Linked DNA regions of Homo sapiens: all the other regions are linked to region 1. Evidence: fine-mapped expression QTL. A gene starts in region 1. Each other region holds a variant in brackets. All regions are shown on one strand. Distances are from middle to middle. Region 1 holds the start of DDIAS (DNA damage induced apoptosis suppressor). Region 2 overlaps MIR4300HG (MIR4300 host gene). Region 3 holds the start of LOC124902840 (small nucleolar RNA U13).

Region 1 (8,186 bases):
CTAAGTGTATTGCTTTTATAATTAGAAAAAAATCAATAAATACTATAAAAATGCTGGATAGGGACATTAGCAATAATATACAAAGAAAATCTTGCTTTCTTTAAATCTCTCACACATAAAAGTAGAAATGAGGGTAGAAAGAGGGACAAAAGTGTAAGTGTTGGGGCAGAACTAATTAAGGCCTCAGTTGGCCTTTGATTTTTCAAAGGGCACATACCAGGGATTACCTAGGTCAATGTCCAGGAATGAAGGCTCCAATAGACTTATGCTTATTAAAATATGTGGGGTCCATGTGGACACACTATAGTACATATCTAATTTACCATGGGATATTCTGGAATACTTGCTTTCTCTCCTTTTAGACAAGCCATATGGGGAGCTGAACTGTAATCCAAAGATGTTCTACTAATTTACCACGAAAAATTACCATCACAGGGAAGGGACATATCAGAAGCCCATATTTGTATATTTGGTATAACCTCATATTATACTAAAATTATAAACAGAAAGTTGCTTGAAGAAGAGCTGTTTGGTGAATCAACTATTTAATGGAATCAAGCTAATGCCTGATGCATTTTTCATTCTAGAGATGGTTTTGTCAGTGGTACCAGATATATAAACTCATTGATTACAACCTCTGCATCCCATTTTCATACTAGACAAGTATTTCTCAAACTTTATCATATATCAAAATCACCCAGAAGGCTTGATAAAACAGATTGCTGGGCTCCAACTCCAGAGTTTGATTCAGTAAGTCTGGGATAAGGGCCTGAGAATCTGCATTTTAAGTTCCCAGGTAATGGCCAAATTGCCCACACTTGAAAACCAGTAGCCTAGTCATTGAGACTATCTCATGGTGTGTAACACTTGTGATAAACATGGTTATAGTTAAATCCCCAAGGCCTGACAGCATCTTAGTCTCATTTGGATGATTTTGCAATTCTTTACTCTAATCCATTATTTGGTGATCTTTCAGCTTAACTACCTCATAATCAAGTTCTCAGAAGGCAACTTAATCATTTATGAAAAACCGTGCCCATACATGCACATACCAACACATCTTTTTTTCTTCTTCCGGCTAGACTAGAAGATCTAGAAAAACTGGGTTAGATTAGAAAATCTAAACTAATTCTTATTCTATGTTAGATCCTAGAGAAAAAGTTCAATTAAGTATTTAGTGTAAACTGGCATCTGGGGATGGGGCTGAAGAGAACATAAAAGTATAAGATGTGAATCCTATCTTAAAGTTCATAATCCAGTTTGAGTTCATTTGACTGCTTTACAGTTTGCAAAGTGCTTTTGCAACATTATCTGATCCACTCAGAGAAGTTAATCAGGTCTGGAACTCATGCCTTCTGATGAGTAGCTTACCAGTCTTTCTAGTCCATTACTCTCTTTGCTCAAGCTTCACACTTGAAAGAAACTATGTGTATTTGCTTCAAGACTGTGCCCAAAGGATGAAATTACTCCTTTAAAAAACTAGTTCCACTTCTAATGGCATAAAGAAAAGAAAGTATGACTAATTTTTCTCCCTTTCTTCGTTCCTCTCCAAACCCTTCTTGCCTTGCATGAAAATCTTTGTCACCTTGTAATTCTCCAATTTTCTGTTTCATATTTTACAGGCCAAGAGGCCTCAGCTATGGGAAGGGTGGCTGTTTTGAATTGTTTTCTTAACACTGTCTAATGGTCTCCTCCAATGGCACATACTTGTTTAATTTTTCTAAAGGCAGTCATAATAAGTCCCTAAAAAATAATTTAGTAACATTGACACGAAAATTCTAGAAAAGTAAGAGAGGCAGGCAGGAGAGTGAAAATTAAGTAAGCAAAAAAACAAAGAGACAAAATCTTCAGTGAAAGGAGAAATACTGATGAAAAATGCTTTAAAAACATGAACCAGGAAAATCTTAGTACGATACAGTTTTTCCATTGATATCATTTATGAGACATTTATTACAGGGATGGAGAAGGTCACATCTCAGTAAATGGTACTACTCACTAACCAGTAACTCAAACCAGATACCTAGGAGTCATTTGTCATTCCTCCCTTTCCTTCATATCCCACATCACACTCATCAGAAGGTACTTGAATCTACTTCCATACTTAGAAACCATCATTCACTTTTCCCTCATATATTCTGCCATCATCTTAATCCAAATCACCATTATCTCCTGTTTATGGTGCTGGATTAACCTCCTAACCATGATCCGGTCTCTGCCCATCTTTCCAGACTCATCTCATACAACTGTCCTTTCTAAATATATTCCAGCTATACTGGTCTTTCCTTAGATTCTTGAACATTAACATGTCAAGCTCTTTCCTGCCTCAGGACGTTTGCACAACCTGTTCACTCTGTTTAGAATGTTTTTCTTTCCCTCTTTTGCATGGTTGGATCACGCTCATCTTTTAGGCATCAGTATCAACTCCTTGGAAAGGTCTTCTTAGACCAGTCTAATTCACATAGTTTCCTTGTAAATTCTCCTTAATTCCATCCATAAAAGGTAAGTTCCATTAGAACAGGAATCTACCTTGTTCATCATTGGATCTCAGTACCTAGCAATTCTTGGCACAGACGAAAGAAGCATTTAACTATCTGCAGAATAAACAAATAATTACTTGGTGCTCTGTGATCCAGTCCTGTGGGGTCAGGAAAGGGTTTCTGATTTAAAAGGCTTTGCAAACTGACTAAGAATTAGCCAGGTCAGGGACAGGGTCAGAAGACGGTTTGGGGTGAGAAGGAGGATAGTGCACTTCAGGAACACAAAAGACATTCTATATGGCTGGAGCGGTGGAAAACCACTAGGGCTGAAGAGCCAGGCAAAAGTCAGATAGGAAAGAGTCTGTAAGTCATGTTAAAGAGTTTGGGCTTAAACCTGAGGGCAAATAGGAGCGACTGAAAGGTTTTCAATGGGGAGTGCCTCGGTCAAATATGAACTTTATCAGCCCAGCAATGTGGAGACTGGACTGGAAGGTAGCAAGATTGAAAGCAGGAGAACCAGCTGGGGCGGCGGGGGAGGGGGGGGTTACTGTCACAGCTATGTAGCAGTCATAGGGTCGAACCAAAATAATGTCAGTAAAAAACGGAGAGAAGTGAACAGATCTGAGATATTCAAGAGGCTGGTAGGGACTGGCTGGATGTGAAAAGGAAGAAAACTTTCAAGCTCTGGTTTAAGCACATGGCTCAGTTAAAATATGTTCCTTCTAAGCCATCATAGCATTTTGGAAGATCCCCTTTCAGCACGTACTACTCTGCACAGTGGCCCACTGAATACGTATTTGCACATTACAGAAGCAAGAGTCGCGCCTTTTCCTCTCTATTTCCGATTCTAAAAGCTCACTCCGAGTCTAGCTCGATGGCACTGTAAGTGTTCAATAAACGTTCGTTAGGTGATTGCAAAAGCACTGAGTCTAAAATAAAATAACTGACGTTTATATTCTGTTACCCTCATGGCTGCCCGTTTACAGAGAACCACTTGTGAAAAAACAAGCGCCGGGCTCTGGGTGGGTCTCATTCATAATGAAGTTAAGAGCCTCCTTAGGAGTCTCCGGCTCTTCGGCTTCCCGAGAACCCCTTTACCCAGCTCACCTGGGGGAGAAGACCAGGAACGGGCCCAGGCGACGCACAGTGACTCGGACCGGCCGAACTCAGTAGCACGCCGGCAGCCTTCCAATCGAATCTCCCGCGTCCTTTTCCGCCGGAAGTAACGCTTTGGCTCTGATTACTCAGAGCCAATCAGAAGAAGGCGCCGCAGAGGGTGGAGCTTAGCGAGGAAATCCTACAAGCATCTGGAAACGACCATTTTCGTCAAACTGCGGGTAGAGTCTTTCTCCCCGACAGGTGGATCAGTAGTACAGTCCGTAAAATTGGTTTTGGAGCTTCGCTGAGCCTCCTGGGCGTAGGGTTCCCGGGAAAGTGTGGAGTGAGCCGCAGCGCCCTGGGGTCTGGCGGGGTGACTGAAAGAGGGAATGGAAGCTGGATGAAGAGGGTTGAGGGAGCTTTGGAAGCCAGACCCGGCGCTGTCCTAGGGGCTAGCACTACCCACGGGCGGAGGGAGGAAGGGGGCGGTGGCAGGAGGCAGGAGGGGGGTGGAGCGCGGAGTGGGTTTTCGGGTGCCGGAGAAGAAAGGGGGCGTTATTTGAAAGAAGGGACCGGGACCTGGCGGGATTTAGGGGCGATGTGGACCCGGGGCGACCTGTGTAATGGATGGGTTGTGCGAGCAACACAGTTTTGGGGTGACCCAAGAACGGAGTATCATAGGGAGTGGTTAGGCTCCAGATGGAGGTGGGTGCAAGGAGCACAGTCTTTGGACCTGGACCCAGCGGTCTGCGACGACGTGCTCCGCTCACTGCTGAGTGATCTAGTGCAAGTTCCCGCACCTCTCTGAGCCTCAGTTTCCACATCTGTAGATGGGAATAACAATCATATACGACGCACAAGATTGCTGTGACGATTTAGTTAGAGGAGATGATGCGTGTGCCTCCCTGCCTCGTGATACACTGGCCTGTAGTGAACCTTCAATAAATTGTCATGGTAGCTGTTATTGCCGTTACGTAGGATTTGCGGAAGGCAGGAGGTGTCGCAATGGAATTGCGGTGGCCAGGGCAGGGTTTGGTGGTGATGATAATGGTAGGGATATTGGGTGACCTGAAGGACAGGTGGGCTTCGGGGGCGCTATAGATAAAGCATGGGCTACAGCGATGAGTTAGGAAGAGGCCCTAGCATGATAAGGGCAGACTTGGGGTGTGACCGCAATGAAGGTGAGTGCTAAGGAGCAGATGGCACGAGAGGAAAGTGGAGTGGAGGCGGTGTCCTCGGGGATGGGGGCGGAGTGGCTGTGGTGACCTGGCTTGGGCGGCGTCTCTGAGGAGCTGGCTGGCTTTGGGTTTCCCCTGGGAGGAGCTGTTTTGCGGCGGGCGGAGCTGCAGGCTGGGCAGGGCTTAGCCTGTGCGCTTCTGCTGGCCTCCTTTTCGCCCTCCCACCCGCACTGCAGTCTCCAGCCTGAGCCATGGGCCGCCGAGCCCTCCTGCTCCTGCTTCTGTCTTTTCTGGCGCCCTGGGCCACCATAGCCCTCCGGCCGGCCTTAAGGGCCCTCGGCAGCCTACACTTGCCAACCAACCCCACATCCCTCCCGGCTGTAGCCAAGAACTATTCGGTTCTCTACTTCCAACAGAAGGTAAGGGGGAGCGGGGGCTTCGCCGTCCCAGGCCCAACCGCCGGGAACCCTGACCCTCAGAGCCCGGGCAACGGAGCCTACCTCGAAATTCACACCCCTTGATGCCTAGGATCTGTTCGGTTTTTGGCTAACATCTTCCAGAAGGTGGTCCCAAATCCCAGTTCTGTTTAAATTTTCTCCTCCCATTACCAATAATTTGGTAGTAGTTTTGGCTGCATACTCTTGATTCAGGCTTTTCTGTAATTGGACACGACAGTCACTTCAACTCCCTCTGCTCCCAGAGGGTGCCCCAATCCGAACTCCCTTGACCTTCCCTCAAATTCAAATTATTAAATGCCAGCTCTGGTACCTAGTCTGCGGTGATAGTCATCCTTTGCCCCAAGGCAGCCCTAAATACAAATTTTAATATCTTTACCTATTAGAAAATATTGGATAGTTATCCATCCTAAAAGCCAGCCTCTCAGAAGGGGTCAGCTCAGAGCTGATTTTGTAGCCCTATTATTAAGAATTGTTGACAGTCCCTATTCCCCATAAGACTGAATGTATGTAGCCTATGCTTGTAAAAGGAGTTGTAGGAGTTTGTGGTGGGGGTGGGGATTAGCCTTTCTATGGTCTGTAACGTGAAATTAGAGGTTTTTGGGCTTGATGCCTTTGTGCTTGGCTGCAGCATGAGGCATTCCCCCACAGGTCTTGATGGAAAAGTACATCCTCTGTGAAATGACAAGTAATCCTTACAGTTCAGCATTTCTGAAAGCCTGTGTAAAAATAGGAAAAGATTTGGAAAAGGTTGGGATTAGAAAGAGTGCAAGGGTCTGAAGCTTGGCTTTAGGAGTCAGATAGAACCGGATTCCACCCTGCTAGCTCTGTGACCTTGGGCAGGTTACAGTACTTCTGTGAGCCTAGTTCCTTGATCTCTTGGGGTTTGTGGTGATGGTTGAATGAGAGCAGATAACGTACTCTTAGCAGAGTATCTGGCTTCAAGTAGGCACTCATATAATATGTGGTTATAGACCTATGTGAAATTTTGTTGTTGTTAATTGTGCAGAGACAAGGCTCACTATGTTGCCCAGGCTAGTCTTGAACTTGTGGGCTCAATAATCCTTCTGCATCAGCCTCCCAAAGTGTTGGGATTACAGGTGTGAGCCACTGAGCCCAGCCCTTATGTGAATTTGGAATGGGAATTTGTGGTAGAGGGATGTCATAGACTTCCAGAATAACTTAGAAATAATTTAAAAATTTTTTTATTTTTAAAAATAGAGATGGGATTTTGTCATCTTGCCTAGGCTGGTCTTGAACTCCTGGGCTCAAGCGATGCCCCTGTCTTGGCCTCCCAAAGGGCTGGGATTGCAGGCGTGTGCCACTGTGTCCCCAGCCAAGAAACAATTTTTAACCCAGACATTTGAGTTCAAGTTTATGAGGAAGAGAAAACATTTTAATTTTAGCAGGGGTACTAGGAAATAATCTTTTTTCTCAGGCAACTCCCTTAAATTAATTCTCTAGGGCATAATTCCCTCATTTGTAAATTAGGAGGGTTGGGACAAGGACCAATGTGTTTTACACTTTACTGAGGAAAATTAAGGGCTCTTTGGGGAGCTGTTTCAGAGGGAAAGTGGATGAAGGCTGAAGTGGAGGCCAAATTAGGTGCTCTAGTACCCTCTCTTGGATCTCTTTCAGCTTTTACCTGTTTTATATGCTGGGATTTTATATACAACTATTTGCAGAACTCAACTGCTAAAGTAAAACGGTGGGGAGGACTATTGGATTGGGAGATCTCTAAAATCCCATTGGGATTGATGAAAAAGAGAACTATCAGCAGAAAAGAGGAAGGGAACAAATGAGTTGTTAGTACCTTAGTTCCTAATTTATGTTCCTTTATTGTAGATTCTTTTCTTGGCCACTACACTCCTTAGAAATATAATTCAACACTGTTTCTTTTTCCATTTTTGATGATATGCAAAGTCCAGCTTTACTCAGCCACATTTTGTCCACTGGCTTATATTTAATTTATATTTTAGGATACAGATTCCACGTATGTATTTATTACCATAATAATAATTTTTCTTCTGTCTATTCCAATTGAGTTTTATTTCATTTTCTGAGGAAAACTTTTACATATGTATTTATTGCATAATTATAATTATACTAGTTGCCAATTTCTGAACCATTGATTTTTAGTTAGGACTATGTGTGAACTCAACTTTAAGTTTTTAAGTTAGAGCACATGAAATACTTTGATGCCTTCTAGTAATAAACTTATTATTAAAACTGTAAGGCTTAGTTTTTTATTCAAGGTTTAATTTTTATTAAACTTTATAATGATTTACCTGTGGTTATATCTGCCCCAGTGACCAAGCTGGACCCAGCTGTCCTTCTATGTATATAAAGGATGTGGTTTTATGGAGTGGTCTCTAAGAAGGCTTAGCCCATGGTCTTATCCCTCCCCTGCTTAGAAATTCTTCATAACTCTGATTGCAGGATAAAGGCCAAACACCTTGGCATGGGAATCCATTGTTCCTTACTATGTAACCCTAGCTGGTCGTTCCAACTTTATATTCTGCCATAATTCCCCATCCCAGCTCCCACTTTTAGCAACCTAACAGACTCAAGTGACTTTTACTGTGTCAGAAATTCTGTCTGGAATACCATCCCTCTTCCCCACTATTTAAACTCATAATTCTATTCCAGCAGAAATGTCTCACCTCTTCTGCGAATCTTTGACTTCTTTAAGGAAATTTAGTTGGTCTTTTTTCATCCTGCACATTTACTATATTGTATGTGTCCCTCCAGCTCGTTAGTACTCTACAATACCTAGAAGAGCCTATAAAAAAGTATAAAGCACAAAATAAATAGTTGTTGAAAGAGTGAATGCATGATTATTCAAAAAGAACCTAAACAAAGCAAAGGCTACCATCATTTAATTGTCACAAATCATTTTTTATTTTTCTTTTTATCTTTTACTTTAATTCTTTACTAATTATTTTTTCCTCCTTTTTCAAGGTCTTCAAATATTGAGT
Region 2 (8,186 bases), 870 kb after region 1:
ATCTTATGCTTGTTGGTAGAAATGAAAGGAGCAGGAGGAAAAAAACAACATATATCACACAGTAATCTTCCCAGTACTATAGTATTCCCTTGCACAAGATGAAAATTTGGATATATTGTTTTGGAATCTGGCTCCTGACATTTTTTCAAATGTTTGGAGTCATTCCTAACTTGGGGTCAGGGAAAGGGAGGCTACTTTGATACCCAGACAAGGAAAGAGAGATGACTTCTTTCCATTAAGCTAGAAGGCAAAGTGTACGTCCTAAAATTCCTTATACTACCCTGGAATAATCTCCCTGAAATAGGTGAATTAAACACGTACTGAGTCCCTGAAAGATTTGTGGAAAAGTTCCTGGAATTCCTGGCCAGGAAGGTGATGAAACCAAGACTCAGAATGTTGAGTGGAGGTGGCATGACCCAATCTAGAGACTGCCACATGGTGGCAACAAATTATTGCAATAATATACAGTTTAAAGTGCTTTATAATATACAGAGCAGGATCCATGCATAATCCCATAAATTTGAAAAATAAGATTGAGGACATGTCTTTTACTTTAACCCAAGCCCAAGCCTAATGTGTGTTAACTACACCTTTTTAGTACATTTTAAAATATTTGGATTATCAGATAACTATTCATACTTTCAGAAGGAACTAGTGTATTTGTTGTACTTTGTTATCCTTTGAAACTAGATGCCCAGTATAGTCAATGCTCTTTCCATTTACTAAGGTATCCTTAAATATGAAAATAAGAATATTTACATGTTTTCACCAAAACATAGCTATTAGTAGATCTCAAAAATAATTCTGTCAATCAACAGGTTTCCTTTTTGTTTTTCTCCAAGACATCACAGAAGCAGTTTGACTTTTCTTCCCCATTGAATTGAATAAATTGAGTTAGAATAAATCTGTATAAATTTGGGTGGTTTTCAATCACCACCTTATTTTGTCAATAAATAATTTAGTTTTTTTTTTTAAACAAACCAGATCATATTCATTGGGCTCAGATACAAAGGAAACTGCTTTGTGGATAAAATGGAATATCTAATTTAAATGCATTTGTGGATATAATTAAAATATTATACTATGCCTTTACATAGCTGCAGTTTTTGCATCAATATTTTTAACCTGAAGGTTGTAAGTAATTATGTTTAATTGGTTTAGCTTCTATTAAAATAATTAGATTACAGTGATGCAATTTCAAATGTGTCTGTGTATATTGGAATTAATTTTTAGCAATTAGCTTCCTCACAGATTCTATCAGCATTGTAATTTGAATTTTGCTTCCAGAAAGTTACTGATACTACAGGTTTGGGTCTCTTTTGTTTGAATTGTTGAAGAACAAACATTCTGTACTTGGCACACAGCTGAAAAACTCTGACCTGGACTATACTTGAATCTACATTATAAATATCAATATTAAAGTATAATCATCATTCTGTTCTCCAAAGTTGATATAATGATATCATTAATTGTTTGTTTTCATACTGGCAAAAAGTAAAAAATAAATAACTCCTGCTTTTGTGCCATGACTATGTTTGCACAGTCTTTTGTCATGGCACCTGCAACACGTTATTTTTCTTATTATACCCTTCTTGGAGACACGTAATACATGCACAGACAGAGAATCACACGCACACGCACACATGCAACTATACCAGGTTTAATAAAGAAAAAAATACTAGATTGCCTCTGTTTCCATTTTTCAGCAGATCATATTTGCCCTGTAAAATTACATGGTAAAATAAATGCCAAGATTCCCAAGTCAAAAACTCTTAATAGAATGAAATATATCTTTGCATAATACCCTATTTAATTATTTTATCCCTATATTTGTAGTCCCTTTGTTAACTATATCTACTTTACTATTCAACCTTATTTTTCAATACTTTCTAAAATGTACTCTCTACTACAATTTGACTACTCTCATCATTTCCTTTATAACCTCTTTGTTTGTCGTGTATTATTTTTTAGTCCACTTCCTGTGCAACATGTGGGTCAATAATAGAAAAAATAAAATAAAATGGCTCTCATATTACTCAAACTCAAAATAGGAGTTTTAGTTTCATCTCTGATTTTTATGTATTTTGTAAAATTCACTGTGTTCTCTAGTTGTCTGTTTGTCCTCCATAAACTCAGAATGATAACACCATCCACCTCACACTAAAGGAGCAATGGATTCAGAGGTGCTGAGTAAACTATTTGACTTCAAAAATACCCTCTTTCTACTGTGCAATGCTGCCTCATTTATAAGCAATTATACTTTTATATTGGAAGCCTACATTGTTATTGCTGTTGTGGTAAGACTAAATTCAATTCGGCAAATATTTATTGGGGTTCTACTCTTTGCCCGGTAGTATTCAAAGTGTTAGAGATGTAATAGTGAGCAAAAAGAGAAGTACGTATCTCTCAGAGATTATGTATTAGAGGTGGGGAGACAGCATTTAATGTGCAATGAAATCAAGACAAAGATAATTTCATATAGTGATAACTGGTATAGGGTAATGAAATAGGTGATGTGATTGAGAAGATCTGGAAGGAAGCAGGGCTGGGGAAACTGCTTTTATATATTGATGATTGTGTCAGAAAATTGCAATAAATCCATGAATAATTGTTGTTGTTTTTAGAACTAAATTTAAAACTTGTATTTACTCTTATTAAAATCTATTATAGGCAAAGCATAAAATTGTTTTGGCTTATTGAGGCTTATTATATATGGTTAGGAATATGCACTTGAAATAAAAACTTCTATAAAATCAGGTAGATATTGTTTTAATGCCAAATTCTCATCTATTCCTATTCAAACTATCAGGTTTTAAATTTATAAATTGGAGGAAGCACTGAAACAACTGGCAAAACACCTAGCCAAGAACAGATAATCTGACAAAAGTTTGTTTTCTTCTTTTTATGTATTTAATTTTCATGGGTCCCTAAAGTCTTTTTATTCCTTTAGTTTCCATGAATGGCTAATATTCTATCATTTTTAGTATTGTCCCTATCTGATACATAAGTCCATTCCAAAACGTTTAAGTTATTTTGATTCCAAAATCACTCCCACTCATGGACATTTAATTTCTGTTTAAATACATCTACTGATGAGAAGACACATCTCCTATAATTTCTTAGTGGTCCATTGAGTTCTGTTTGATATTCAGATTAGGAGTAAAATGTATGGCAATTATTACTAATTGAAGATAGTTTATTATTATTACCATTATATATTATTTTTGATACGGTAAACCATATCAAAAAGTGTTTTATTCCCTCCAAATCTCATGTTGAAATGTGACCTCCAATCTTGAAAGTGGGCCAAGTGGGAGGTGTTTTGGTCACGGTAGGGGATCCCTCAGGAATGGCCTGGTATCTTCCCTCATGGTAAAGAGTGAGTTCTGGCTCTGTTAGTTCACATGAGATCTGGTTGTTTAAAAAAGTGGCACATCCCCCCGTACTTGCTCTCTCGCCATGTGATACACTGGCTCCCATTTTGCCTTCCACTATGATTGTAAACTTCCTGAAGTCTTTACCAGGAACACATGTGGGTTCCATTCTTGTATAGCTTACAGAACTGAGGGCCAATAAACCTCTTTTCTTTATAAATTACCCAATGTTAGTATTCCTCTATAGCAACAAAACAGACTATTAAAATAGTATCTAATATTATATTGTAAATATCAAACTCTTATCTAGTGTTATTATTAGAATATTAATTGAATGTGGTATTTTATGCTTGTATTCATGTTTACCAATTGATTGTATGACACTTTCTACTATTTAAAGAGACAAGTGTTTCTGATGG[G/A]GTTAATGGTAGATGATAAGAGAAAAGCTAAGGAGAAAGAAATTCATTTTTTTGTGAAAATCATCTATTGTTTCAGTAACTGCTGTATTTGAAAACCCTGACAGCCAGTTCCTTCATTCAAGAACATTTATTCCCATATGTTTTGTGGTCCCACATCATAAAAATTACCTATTGGAAGAGTTATTGCTTCAGGCAATAATGAGACCATAAATCTGTTAGCCTCCCTTAACGTCCCTGGAAACACACAAGAGCTGTTGGGGCTATTTCTTCCCTGAAAAGTGTAAAATCATCATTTTTGTTGATATTCATTTAAATCAGACAAGTTTCTCCACTTGGGGCAGAATTTCTTTGATAGAAACTAAATCATGAGGCCTCCAGCCCACAGCACTTGGAGACACTTTGATTGAACAAAGCAATTATGTTCCTGAAAATAAGATTGCTTGACAAAGAACATCCAAAGTGCATATTATATGGAGTTTGCATTTGGAGATCACTTTCACTCTAGGCAAGCAAGAATGCCCTGACAGTTTTCTCTTTAAATTGTAAGCTCTAGCAGAGATGTGGAAGAGATGTAATGGTAGTGTGTGTGTCTTCTTACTGCTTCTCAATTTGTATAATAAAAAACAGATACTTTCATCTTATTAAAATAGGAAAACTCAATAGCGGAATAATAGGGAAAGAAGTTGATTTATAAAGCTGCATCACATTGGAAAGAACATTTGATTTGGAAGCAGAAAAATTGGACCCAAATGAGCGTTCTAACCTTCACTAGCTATGGGAGAAGGCCTGCCTGAGTGTGTTTTCTCATCTACAAAGAAAAAAAAGTAATAGCCAGGTTGTATCCAGTCAAAGGGTTGCCAGGTCATTGTTCATTAATTCTTGTATATTAAGACCCTGAAATCTTTAGGATCAAAGACTAAGAACGCCTTTTCTTTTAGATAGGCCTAGATACTCAGCCAACCTCTATTGCCATTTTGAATCTGCTCTTGATTTTTTTTTTTTTATCATTCTTTACCCAGTGTTTCTTCACCCAGTTCTTCAGGGAATTTTACAAAATATGCTCAAAACCTCTCTCTTTAGTTTTGTTTTAGATAGATTCAAAAGTTCTTTTAATTTTAGATATATTAATTTTCTTATTAGTCACTGCAGGAATAAATATGGAAAATAGAAATATAAAAGAGTTAATAAAGTCAATGAAGTTAACATTTATCGATCATCTATCATATTTATTCCTTAAAAATAAAAAATGTTATGTGGTGTTAGTAAAACAAAGGCTTACAGATATTAGGTGACTTTTCTAAGATAAAAATATTCAGTAGAAGGATGGAATTTGAATTCCAGCTGTTCTAAAGGCAAAGACACTGCTTATTATTATACTATTTTGCCTAATGAGAACAAGAAGTAGGGAAACTTTTGCAATTACAATATTCGCTCTCCATAACTTCTTTTCTTAATCCAAATTACTTTGTGCTCTTTCATTCCTCAGGGCAGAGTTTACCAAACAGCTAGTCTCTTCTCTAGATAGGGATAGACGACCATTCCTCTATGATTCCTACTCCCAAACCTATGGGTTATCAGAACGGTGCAAAGTAAAAAAGTGGGAATAAGACAGACCTGAGTTGAACTTCTGGTTCTGGCACTTCCAAATTGGGGATTTCGGGTCACTTTGCTGAATCAATCAGAAATATGATTTCCTTATCTATCAGATGCATATAATACTTAAGCTTGAAAGAGTTTCACCAATATTAAGTCAGATAATATACATAAATTGCCTGCACACTTACATAAAAATCCATATTAGTTATGGTGGGAACATGCCCAAATGGGAACACGCCCAAATATTATCTTCACATTAATAAAGAAAGGTTCCTGGATTGTGGATTCCTTTCTACCAGAACTGAATCACTTAACCCTGAAAAGTTTTTGGGTGGCTACATGCAGGAATGCTGCTTACCTCATGGCAGATTGAGCAAGCATATATTCAGATCCCTTATCAATGAGTATGTATTTGATATTTTGTATTATTTCAGTCTTGCGCTTAAGTTGTGAGCTCGAATTCCAAAACTTTAAAACTTTCTTTTTTCTTCCTTGAAATGCACATAGATTTTATGTGGCAACAATTCCTGGTAAACTTTCATTTTTCCTCAGGACTTTGCATGATTAAAGTCTCCAGAATGAAGTAAAACTTTGATTCAACAAATCATGAAGCCCCTTGAAGTTGAGAAGACTGGAGCAACACATGTTTTGGTTCCCTACAACATTCCAGACACTGAGTATATCAATTAGGGTACGGGCAGGTTTTAGAAACCACACTAGTTATTTTAAGATATAAAATTTAATGTAGGCAACTGTATAAACAAGTACTGGAAAACTGAAAAGGCAGAAAAGGAATCCTGCCTATGGAAATTAAGGCTCTGCATGCCCCAGTTATCTTTAAAAAGAAAATAGTATTAGCTGTTTTGTGTCCATGGGGGTGATGCCAGGTCATTGCCTATTGGCTCCCTGTTTACTAAGTTTCTGAACCTTGTATTTAGGTTCAGGGGAGACCACACCATGAATAGCCCCCTTTTTTTTGAGCAGGCTGTAAAATCTCAGCCTATATTCATTACTTTTTTGGATCACCTTCCACTTTTTTTTAAATTTTCTTAAGTGTCTTTTTCATAAAGATAACATAGAGAGAACTATTGAAGAAAGCATCTACCAACTCTAAGGGTAGAGACAAAATGGGAAAATGTCAGAGTTACTGGCACCTAACAACCTGTGATACAGATTTCTGAAGAAGGGGTCCTTTCCAGCTGCTAGCCTTTAGGAACTTGAAGAGGGGCCAGCAGAACTCTAAGAACAGACTTTTCCTAGCTGATTCTGATACTTCAAATATTTGAGGTCACTGACAGCTAGAACTTGCATCTCTGAGATAGCGAAATGAAGCTGATCCTTGGAGCATGGGAAGAAAATTGGAAGTGGAATACATTGCTGCAGCCAGGGTGAAGAAATGTTGTTGGTGACACTAACAGAAGCAGCAAACAAAACCAGCCAGTGCAAGTTCCTTCTCCCTTCTCAATACTTAGATTTTTCACCCTATCATCTGTCTCTGCCGAGTGTATCTGCAGGCAAATGGCAGGCCTATCTGCAGAAAAACAGCAGGGAAAGAAGTGTGGTTGGTACCGTTCCTGCTTTTTTATGGTTAGGCAGAATACAGAAGGGTGAGCCTTGAGTGGGGCTTCAGTGGCTTACTAACCAGCACACTATCTTGGGTGAGTGGGGTATAGAATGAACTGGAGAAGCAGGAGATATAGTACTTGCCCTCAAGAGAATGTATTTCTAAAAGCTCCTGTACTACTTTTGAGAGATTAAGTCAAGAGGAAGAGTTGAGTTATGCATGAAAGATTTCATGAAGGATGAACAACTTCAAGTGGCAAAACTTATACGATGAGGACAGAAACAAGAGTGGAGGTGATATGTGTTCCAGATAATATACGTGGTTTATTTTTACTGGATTTACCCAACAAATTTATCTAACAATAACTAACCAATTTTGTTTCCAGTGTACACAGAGTCACAGAAAATTGTCCTAAGGGACCAAAAAAAAAAAAAAAAAAGACTGGATTTACCATTCTCTGGGAGGCACAGGGTGTGTAGCATAAGGAATTTAGGGGGTTTTCATTTCAAATTTTGCTTTGTCTTTCTAGGTCACTGAGTAGCAAAGAATAAAAGCTCATAATTTTCTAGTCTCTCTTTGGTTAGGAAGTAAATGATAATCACATTGAGTTAGATAAAAATACAAATAAAACTTTACTTGAAAGAATGATGTAAGGAAAATCCTTATGTTCAAGAGATAAATTTAATTTATTTAACTATAGTACTAAATTATAATTCCTCATCCCAACTACCTCATGATTTAGACAGTTGAGTGGTCCAAAAGGAGCTTCACGTGGTATGAAGACCACTTAGGCATTGATTTATCAGGGTTAGTTTCATGCGCGTCTGTGTGAAGAGACCACCAAACAGGCTTTGTGTGAGCAACACGGCTGTTTATTTCACCTGGGTGCAGGCGGGCTGAGTCTGAATAGAGAGTCAGCGAAGGGAGATAAAGGTGGGGGATTTGGGTTTTATAGGATTTGGGTAGGTAAAGGAAAATTATAGTCAAAAGGGGTTGTTCTCTGGCGGGCAGGGGTGGGGGTCACAAGGTGCTCAGTGGGGGAGCTTTTTGAGCCAGGATGAGCCAGGAAAAGGAATTTTACAAGGTAATGTCATCAGTTAAGGCAAGGACTGGCCATTTTCACTTCTTTTGTGGTGGAATGTCATCAGTTAAGGCAGGAACAGGCCATTTTCACTTCTTTTGTGATTCTTCAGGTACTTCAGGCCATCTGGGCATATACCTGCAGGTCACAGG
Region 3 (8,186 bases), 61 kb after region 1:
GCAAAATGTGTATAATAACAATTGTAATGCTTATTAGGGTTGTTATGAGTATTTCATAGCATCTGGTATAAAGTAAAAGCACTAAATTGATGCTAGTTATAAATAATAATAGCTATTATTATTATGTAATATTGGGAAACCAGATGATTATACCAGGACTTTGTGGTTGACGTCTGGGTTGAGACCTATATTCATAGTGCTTTTTTTTTTTTTTTTTCCCACATCAGACAGGTAATGTGCTGATAGCATAACCAGGTTTGAGGGTGGTCCATTTCACACGTGAGCATGAAAACCCAATCATACGCTTCTTGCATTCATGGTTTTTAAATTGTGTATCTGTAGCCAGACCTCTGAGCTTGTTTTCTCTTCTGTGAAATGGGAATGATCATTATATGGTGCTCTCTTGGTTATTGTGAGGAAAGAACCTGCCCTGCCATCAAAGAATATTCAGTAGTTGTACTAGCAACCTCAGTCCCAGCTATTCACATTTCAGCGCATTTACAGTATGTGTAGGAATGACACGCCTTATGTAGAAATTGTTTAGAAGAAGCCGTTTGCTAGGGCTCACAAAATAAATAGAAAGTAAGTTCAGGGATACCTGGGTGTTGAGTATTTTGGACAGAGATGGTTGTCTGATTATATCACAGCCTCTATGTAAACAATCAACAGGCCAAGTGCTTGCTTTTGTCACGTCAGTAATATCTGCACATTATCAGGGTTAAGCTAAAGTATTATATGAGGTTAAGACAAAATTGTTGATATTTGACTGTTTTTGACTTATAAATGTGAGAATTTCATATGGTTCAATTTAATATTTATGTATTTTATGCATCCTACAGTTATTTGATAAAAGTATGTGAATATCTCCTTTTAAACTACTCGTCTTTTTTTTTTTTTTTAAGAGATGGAGTCTCACTCTGTCACCCAAGCTAGAGTGCAGTGGTGTGATCATAGCACTGGAGCCTGGAACTCCTGACTGAAGCAATCCTCCCACCTCAGCTTCCTGAGTAGCTGAGACTATAGGCACGTGCCATCACACCTGGTTAAGTTTTAATGTTTTGTAAAGATGAGGACTTGATATATTGCCCAGGCTGGTCTTGCACTCCTGGCCTCAAGTGGTCCTACTGCCTGGGCCTCCCAAAGTGCTGGGATTACAGGCATGAACCACTGTGCCTGGCATTGAGTTACTCTAGTCTTTAAATAAGCATAGGAATAGTGCTGAGGTCTGGCTAATATGACTTCAGTATTTTTTTGAAACTTCATTCACTCTGCTACCAAAATTGTTAAGGAAGTGCAAAGAGATATTAGAGATTCTGTTTTTTAATGGTAGAGGATGATGCTTGGACTCACAAAATCTTTGAGTTAGAAAGGAAATTTAGACTTACCTAAAATAAAATTTCCATATTAAATTTGCAAATATTTTGCAAAAAAATTTTAAGTGACATTTTTTCAGGCTTTCTATCTAGCATAGTAGTAGAATTAAAAATCAGCACTTCCTTTCTATAAGGCAGTTTGACAGGATGTACCAAGGGCCTTAAACATGTTGATCTCTTTTGAGCCAGTAATTTAAGAATTTATCCCAAGAAAACAATTAAGAATATAAGAAAGATTTAGCCCCAAGGGTATTTATTGTAGCCTTATTTGTAATGATGAAAGGTGGGGAATGACCCAATTTTAGGGTTGCTTCAGCTGTTTTTCAGCTCCCCATCCCGATTGCTCTCTTCTAGATTTTCTAATGTTGGTCGGTGCCCTTCGTAAGTTGTGTACAAAGCTGGATCCAGTACTCCAAGGGTGATCTGACCTCACAGAGCACAGTGCCTGGGGAGTGCCCTTAATCTGGACTTGGAATTCCATCATACAGAGGCCAAGTCTCTGACCATGATGTTCTCTCTGTGTAACTGGGGCTGCTGAAACCCAAGTATTGTCAGCCAGTGCCGGTCTCCAGCCATGCTTGTGTCTTTTAAGAAGTGACAGTAACTGCTATTTGTGGAGATGGCTATTCATAGGGACTCCTTTTCTTTGCCTGACAGAGGCCCAGTGTTCTAAGCTCTAAGAGGGGCTCTGATGCCAGCATGTGAGTCACACTCACTTGCTACTGTTCTTTTCCAGAGTTTTGGGCCACTTGTTGCTGCACATCACTACCTCCTCTCCCCCTGCCCAGCTTGCATTGTCGCCCTTCCCCATCTACCATGCTGTCCTTGAACATAAGGCGCTTCTCTGCATTCCATGTGTCTACTTTGTAGTTATGTGCTGCATTTTGAAAGAGCTGAATCTATGTCCAGGTTCAGGAAAGAATGCTGATCAACTGTTGGCAATAGATGGTTTAATATATCTTATGATTGTTTCTTGATTTCCATATTGTCTTGAGTTATTTCTTATTGACATATTTCCTAGGAATGTTTTCTGAGAAAAGTGCCATGCAAATGTTAGGTATTTTTTTGACTTACCATGAAAAATCGAGAGTTGCCAAAATAAACACTATTTTGACTTTTAATTAGCTCTCAGTTTAGCTCAATTCTCTCTTCATGTACATCCTAAACCCTGGTATTCCTTATTCTTATGACCTCACAGTTACTTTTGAAAGATATATCCAATTATTTGAACATCTTAATTTCTGACTTTTCTCACATTCAGCAGTTCTGAAAACTTTTGGCAATGATGCACACTCCATCTTCCTTTGGAAAGTCATATTACATTTGAGCATGTTAAAGGTTCTGAGAAATCATCTGAGATTATATAATAATAACAACCAGTCAGGAAAACTGTTCACATTTGCTAATATACAGTTTCTCAAAACTATCTGGCTAGGAAACATTTTTCCACAAAGTACCAATAAACATTCCATGGAAATATTGTGGTGCAGAATATATTTGGGGAGAGGCATTGAATTTTCCTGAAAATTCATTTTCTCTTTTACAGTTTTCCTTTTTTTTTTTTTCCCCCGCTGGCAGCTGGTGCCAGGCAGAACTGTGATGAGGGGCTGGGTTTGGTTGCATCCTTTCTCAGTACCCTCCTTTCCTGACTGGGAGCATGTCCCCAGCCCAGGCCCTGTTATTCCTGCTGCCCAGAATCTCTCTCCCTGAGGTGGGGTGACTGGGCTCCTTTCCTGGCTTCTTCTCTGGACTAGTCTTTTTTTTGTCAGGACTAGTCTATTATATATATAATCTTTTCCGTATGAAATGGAAAAGGACCAGATTACTGAATTCATGTCAGAGTCAATAGAGATTCAAGCTTACTGGGTTTGCCTTGCCACTGGGACTATTTGTAGTTTTACAGGTGGACACTTCCTAAGCTGTGTGTCATAATGGATAAGATGTATATTTCATAACCAGAGACAGCTGGGAACAAATCTAGGCCCTATTATTTACCAACTGAGTGACCTTGAAGATGACTTAACCTAAGAATCAGGTTTTTTTTTTCATGTAAAATAATGGACAATCATCTATCTGATAGGGTTCTTTGAAGATTACATGGTGTATTGGTTGGAAACCCAAGGCTTAATAATTACTAGCTGTTGTTGTTGTTAGTATTATTCAGCTATGATTCCATTGCCTGTTATTTTTCTCCAACATTTTATTATGAAAAGTTTGAAACATATGGAAAAGTTAAAATAATTGGACAATGAACACTCATGAACCTAACATCTAAATTCAATAAATAATATTTTATTATATTTGATTTGTCACATATATATTCACCTATCCATCACTTCATCTATCTTTTAATTTATCCTATTTTAAAATGAATTTTAAAGTAAATTGCAGACATCTTCCTCTTAAATACTTCAGCTTTATTATCATTAACAAGAGTTCAATATTTGTGTATGGTTCTTCTTCTGGTGGTGGAGGGGTGAAATCTAGATACCATGAAATACACAAATTATATCATTTTTCATGTAACCCTATTAAGATATAGAATATTTCTGTACCCAAGAAAGTTTGCACTGGCTCTGTTTAGTCAGTCCTCACCTTTACTCCTAACCCTGAATATTGTCTGATTTTTATAGCTAGGATTCC[A/G]GGCATTTTTTATAGGATAGTGATAGGAATATTTGGGAGCTGGGGAGTTGCAGCATATGCTTTTTATCACACGACAGATGCTGGAACTTGGTATAGTTTTTCCATACGAGATTTTATAAATTTTGCATTTTTATAAAAGTATAGTAATTCATTCAGCAAACATTTACTTACCAGATACCTTGCTAAGTACTGAGGGAGACATTCTGAAATCAAGTGAGTGAAGTAGAGCATTACAGGGGCTGTGATAAAAATAGGTACAGGGTATAATGGAGGCACCAAGAAGGGAGAGGTTTAATTCTTCCCAACTTGGAAACATAGGCAAGGATGGCCTTGAAGAGGAGGTAATATTTGAGTTGAGTGTTGTAAAAGATGAGTTGGTGTTCAAAGGCATTAGTGGAGTGGGAGAGGAGTTGGAAAACAGTGTTTCAGGGTGAGAAAGGGCAAAGGGGAAGGAGCCTGGTGTGGTGGGGAATGGTTTTCCTAGGCTGGAGCAAAGGCAGCAAAGAGGAAGCTAAGATGGTAGATGGAGAGGACTTTGCATACCATGCAAATGACTTCGGTTTATTTCTATAGCCTAAGGAGTAATTGAAGAGGTTTATTCATTTATGGAGGGGATTAAACCCAAGAGAGAAATTAAACACTGCAGTTAGTAGCTTAAGAATATTTTATGATCAGATCAAAATCATATTTCTTCTTTGTGTTATTAAACTGTCATTTTATATTCATATTCTGACTCTTTCCCCATTTATCTTTCTAAAATGACAGGTAGTGTGCCAGTATTTGAAAAATCCCAATGTATCTGATTCACTGCTGCTGCAGAATATTTTCCAAGCTCTGAATGTATATTACAATTATTCGGGCCAGGTGAAATGCCTGAATATTTCAGAGACAGCAACTAGCAGTCTGGGAACACTGGGTTGGAGCTATCAGGTAAATATGTATAATTTCCCCAAGTGGAACTTACTTTTCACTGACACAGTTGTGCTGTAAAAAAAAATCAGGGTACACAAGATTTTGTCACCTAACCTGGATCCAGTTTTGGGCTCTGTTACCTTATGCTGTGATACTATGGACAAGTTTTCTTGTTCATTCATTTGTTCATTTAATAATCACCAAATAGATATTGAGTTCTTACATGTGTCAGGCACTCCTCTAGGTTTCAAAGATACAAAGATAAATGGTACATGATCAAATCTAGTGTAGTAAAAAAGTAAGTAAGTAGTATTTCAATAGATCTTGATAAGTCCTACAAAGGAAGCATTTTATAGACATATAAAAGAAAGGGAGTCTAATTTGTCCTTCATCTGCACAATGAGACTAATAATAATAAACTTTCCTTGCAGAGTTGTTTTGAGGGTTAAATGTGATAATAAATGTGAAATCAAGCAGTTTGCTATGAAGGGACATAATCCTGACTTCCGTGACTTCTTGGCCAAGTCTTTTTAAGAATAATGAGAGATTATATGGCGCAGAAGTAAAGAACAGGGCGTTGAAGCTGCCTTGCCTGAGTTCAAACCCTGCCTTCACTACTTACCAGCATTATGACTTTGTGTAATTTATTTAACCTCTTTTTGCCTCATTTTTCTAATTGGATTCTCTCTTGGTTTGCTTCTTAGGCCTGCACAGAAGTAGTCATGCCCTTTTGTACTAATGGTGTCGATGACATGTTTGAACCTCACTCATGGAACTTAAAGGAACTTTCTGATGACTGTTTTCAACAGTGGGGTGTGAGACCAAGGCCCTCCTGGATCACTACTATGTATGGAGGCAAAAACATTAGTTCACACACAAACATTGTTTTCAGGTGAGTTTTTGCTGTCCAAAGATAAACTTCAGTTGGTGGAACATTTGTAGAATATCTGAAAAAACAGAACCAGGGAAATGCTGGACAATATAACAACATAGAATACAACAGTGCTACCTGTCATGTTTTCCTATGCCTTGAAAGATAGGATGCTGAGAAGAGATAGGATTTTTTGCTCTATTACCAATGTGCTTTATGAAAGTCTTAAAAATCAACAGCAACAAAATTTTTTAAATATTAAAAAAACTCTCCAGCACAAAATAAAGCATCATCTGTTGTTCTTAATTTGTCTTATTATTGTTATGTTGTTGTTGATGGTAATAAAAAATTTTCAGTATTCATCACTTTTGAAGTGCCCACTTCATTCTGTTCCAAGTACTAAATGAGGCACTTTAAATAAATTACCTGGTTAAATCCTCACAACAACCCTGTGAAGTAGTTTTTATAGCCCCTTTTTTACTGTGAAGGAAACTGAAGGTCACTGTGTTCAATCACTTGCCAAAGCTCATCCAGCTTTGTTTTAGTTACTAAGTGATAAAGCCAGCTTTCTATCATGGCCTGACTACAAATCCCATGTTTGTTTTTCTACATTACACTGTTCCTTAAGAAGTCACACAGTTGCCACTGGTTCACATTAGAGTTAATTGAGCAGACTCCATGTGTATCTGACTGGGACTTCAAAATTTCCATGTTTTGAGTTGAACATTAGGTTGTCAGCTATTAAAATAGCAACAAGTTAATCAAGAATTTCCCCAAGTCTATATAGAAATAGGAGATGCCACTACATACCTGTTAACCAGAGCTATTTTTAAAATTGTAAATGTCATTCTTTTAGAAGTTCTTTTATTTGTTTTAGTTTTTATTTTTTGAAAAAATCTGTTAAAACTTTATCTTGCATTTTACAGAAGTCTATGAATGATTTTTAAAAGGCATCTCCTTACCCCATGTCGCATTTCTCTGACAGTTGTTAAAGTAGGCAATGGATATATCACCAGCTTGAGCATTGCCATCTTGCAAGGATTTCAGACCAACCAACTACTCACCAAAGAACTTGGCAGCTTTTTAATCTCGTTTTTAATACAATGGTAGATCCACTCTGATGGCAAACTTATCCAGCCAAATCTCCACAACACAATTTGCAAAATTAGTGATTAGCAAATTGGTTAGCTTTGGCATGGAGCTGTGCTTATTTGCCCGTGACAGCCTGGTGTTGATACTGGCAACAGAACATTGAGAAGGACAACTTTCACACTGTAAGAAATAGAGTCGGATGCCCTTCTGCAGGATTGTGTCTGGTGATTGGCATGTGTGACATCACCTTGACAATTCCTTGATGTATCAAGGGCTAGTTTCCTCCAGCCCTTTTATGAGGCACTACTCTGTTCATAAGGGTGGAGCCCCATAACTTAAATGACATATTCCTTGATATATCTCCTCAAGACATTTTCTGTTTCTATGGGAATCTTCCTTTGATTACAAGTTGGTTATTACCGTCTGTAGAACCACTTGTACCCAATTCAGCCAACAAAAATGCAAGGAGGCTGGATGCAGTGGCTCACTCCTGTAATCCCAGCACTTTGGGAGGCCAGGGCAAATGGCTTGCTTGAGCCCAGGAGTTTGAGACCATTCTGGGAAACATGGTGAAACCCCATCTCTACAAAATATATAAAAATTAGTTGGCATGGTGGCATGTACCTGCAGTCTCAGCTACTCAGGAGGCTGAGGTGGCAGGACGGCTTGAGCCCAGGAGGTGGAGGTTATAGTGAGCTGAGATTGCACCACTACACTCTAGCCTGGGCAATAGAGCCAGATCTTGTCTCAAAAAACAAACAAACAAAAACTCCCCAAAAACCATAAAAACAAAACAAAAAAAAATGAAAGAAATGCAAGGAGACATTTGGGCTGTTGATGTAATAGTTTACAGATATCCATAAAGTTGATGAAAGGAGTTTTCTTGGTTCCTACTTGGACGACCTGTAGAGGTTTCATGGTGAATTTCCTTTTCTTTCAAGCAACTGTGTCTGGATTCTTTCCCCTTATAATGTTGAACATATGATCCAGTAGCTCCTTATATGTGCAGTCTCTTTCTGACCTACCTATCAGGGCCTATCTGATTGCTGAATGAGACAGCATCGTCTTTTTTGCTGTCTTCATCTTCTAGAGCTGTGTCTTTTTTTTTTTTTTTTTTTTCCTCGAGATGGAGTCTCACTCTGTCACCCAGGCTGGAGTGCAGTGGCACAATCTCTGCTCACTGCAACCTCCGCCTCCTGGGTTCACACCATTCTCCTGCCTCAGCCTCCCAAGTAGCTGGGACTACAGGCTCCCACCACCACGCCCAGCTAATTTTTTGTATTTTTAGCAGAGAT

The links.
Region 2: its variant is fine-mapped to the expression of DDIAS in whole blood (INTERVAL, PIP 0.92).
Region 3: its variant is fine-mapped to the expression of DDIAS in whole blood (TOPMed, PIP above 0.99).

What each region holds. Positions count from the first base shown.
Region 1 is chr11:82,897,221-82,905,406 of GRCh38, reverse strand. DDIAS (DNA damage induced apoptosis suppressor) reads right to left here and starts at 3,671. Exons shown (of 6, transcript NM_145018.4): 1 at 3,585-3,671. It overlaps PRCP (prolylcarboxypeptidase), which reads left to right and starts at 4,977. Exons shown (of 9, transcript NM_005040.4): 1 at 4,977-5,172. The coding sequence starts at 5,005. It overlaps LOC124902602, which reads left to right and starts at 3,352. Exons shown (of 2, transcript XM_047427953.1): 1 at 3,352-3,359; 2 at 3,726-4,493. The coding sequence starts at 3,352. The coding sequence ends at 4,383. RefSeq lists silencers at 4,042-4,131, 4,182-4,231 and enhancers at 4,442-4,491, 4,772-4,871, 5,022-5,081, 5,202-5,251.
Region 2 is chr11:82,030,596-82,038,781 of GRCh38, reverse strand. The region is part of intron 5 of MIR4300HG (MIR4300 host gene); the gene reads left to right. Among named protein-coding and RNA genes, the nearest start is that of MIR4300, 140 kb to the right of the region's middle. The variant G/A (reference allele first, on the strand shown) is at 3,794.
Region 3 is chr11:82,836,021-82,844,206 of GRCh38, reverse strand. It overlaps PRCP (prolylcarboxypeptidase), which reads left to right. Exons shown (of 9, transcript NM_005040.4): 7 at 4,782-4,946; 8 at 5,633-5,820. It overlaps LOC124902840 (small nucleolar RNA U13), which reads right to left and starts at 322; the gene lies at 222-322. It also overlaps the pseudogene EIF2S2P6. The variant A/G (reference allele first, on the strand shown) is at 4,017.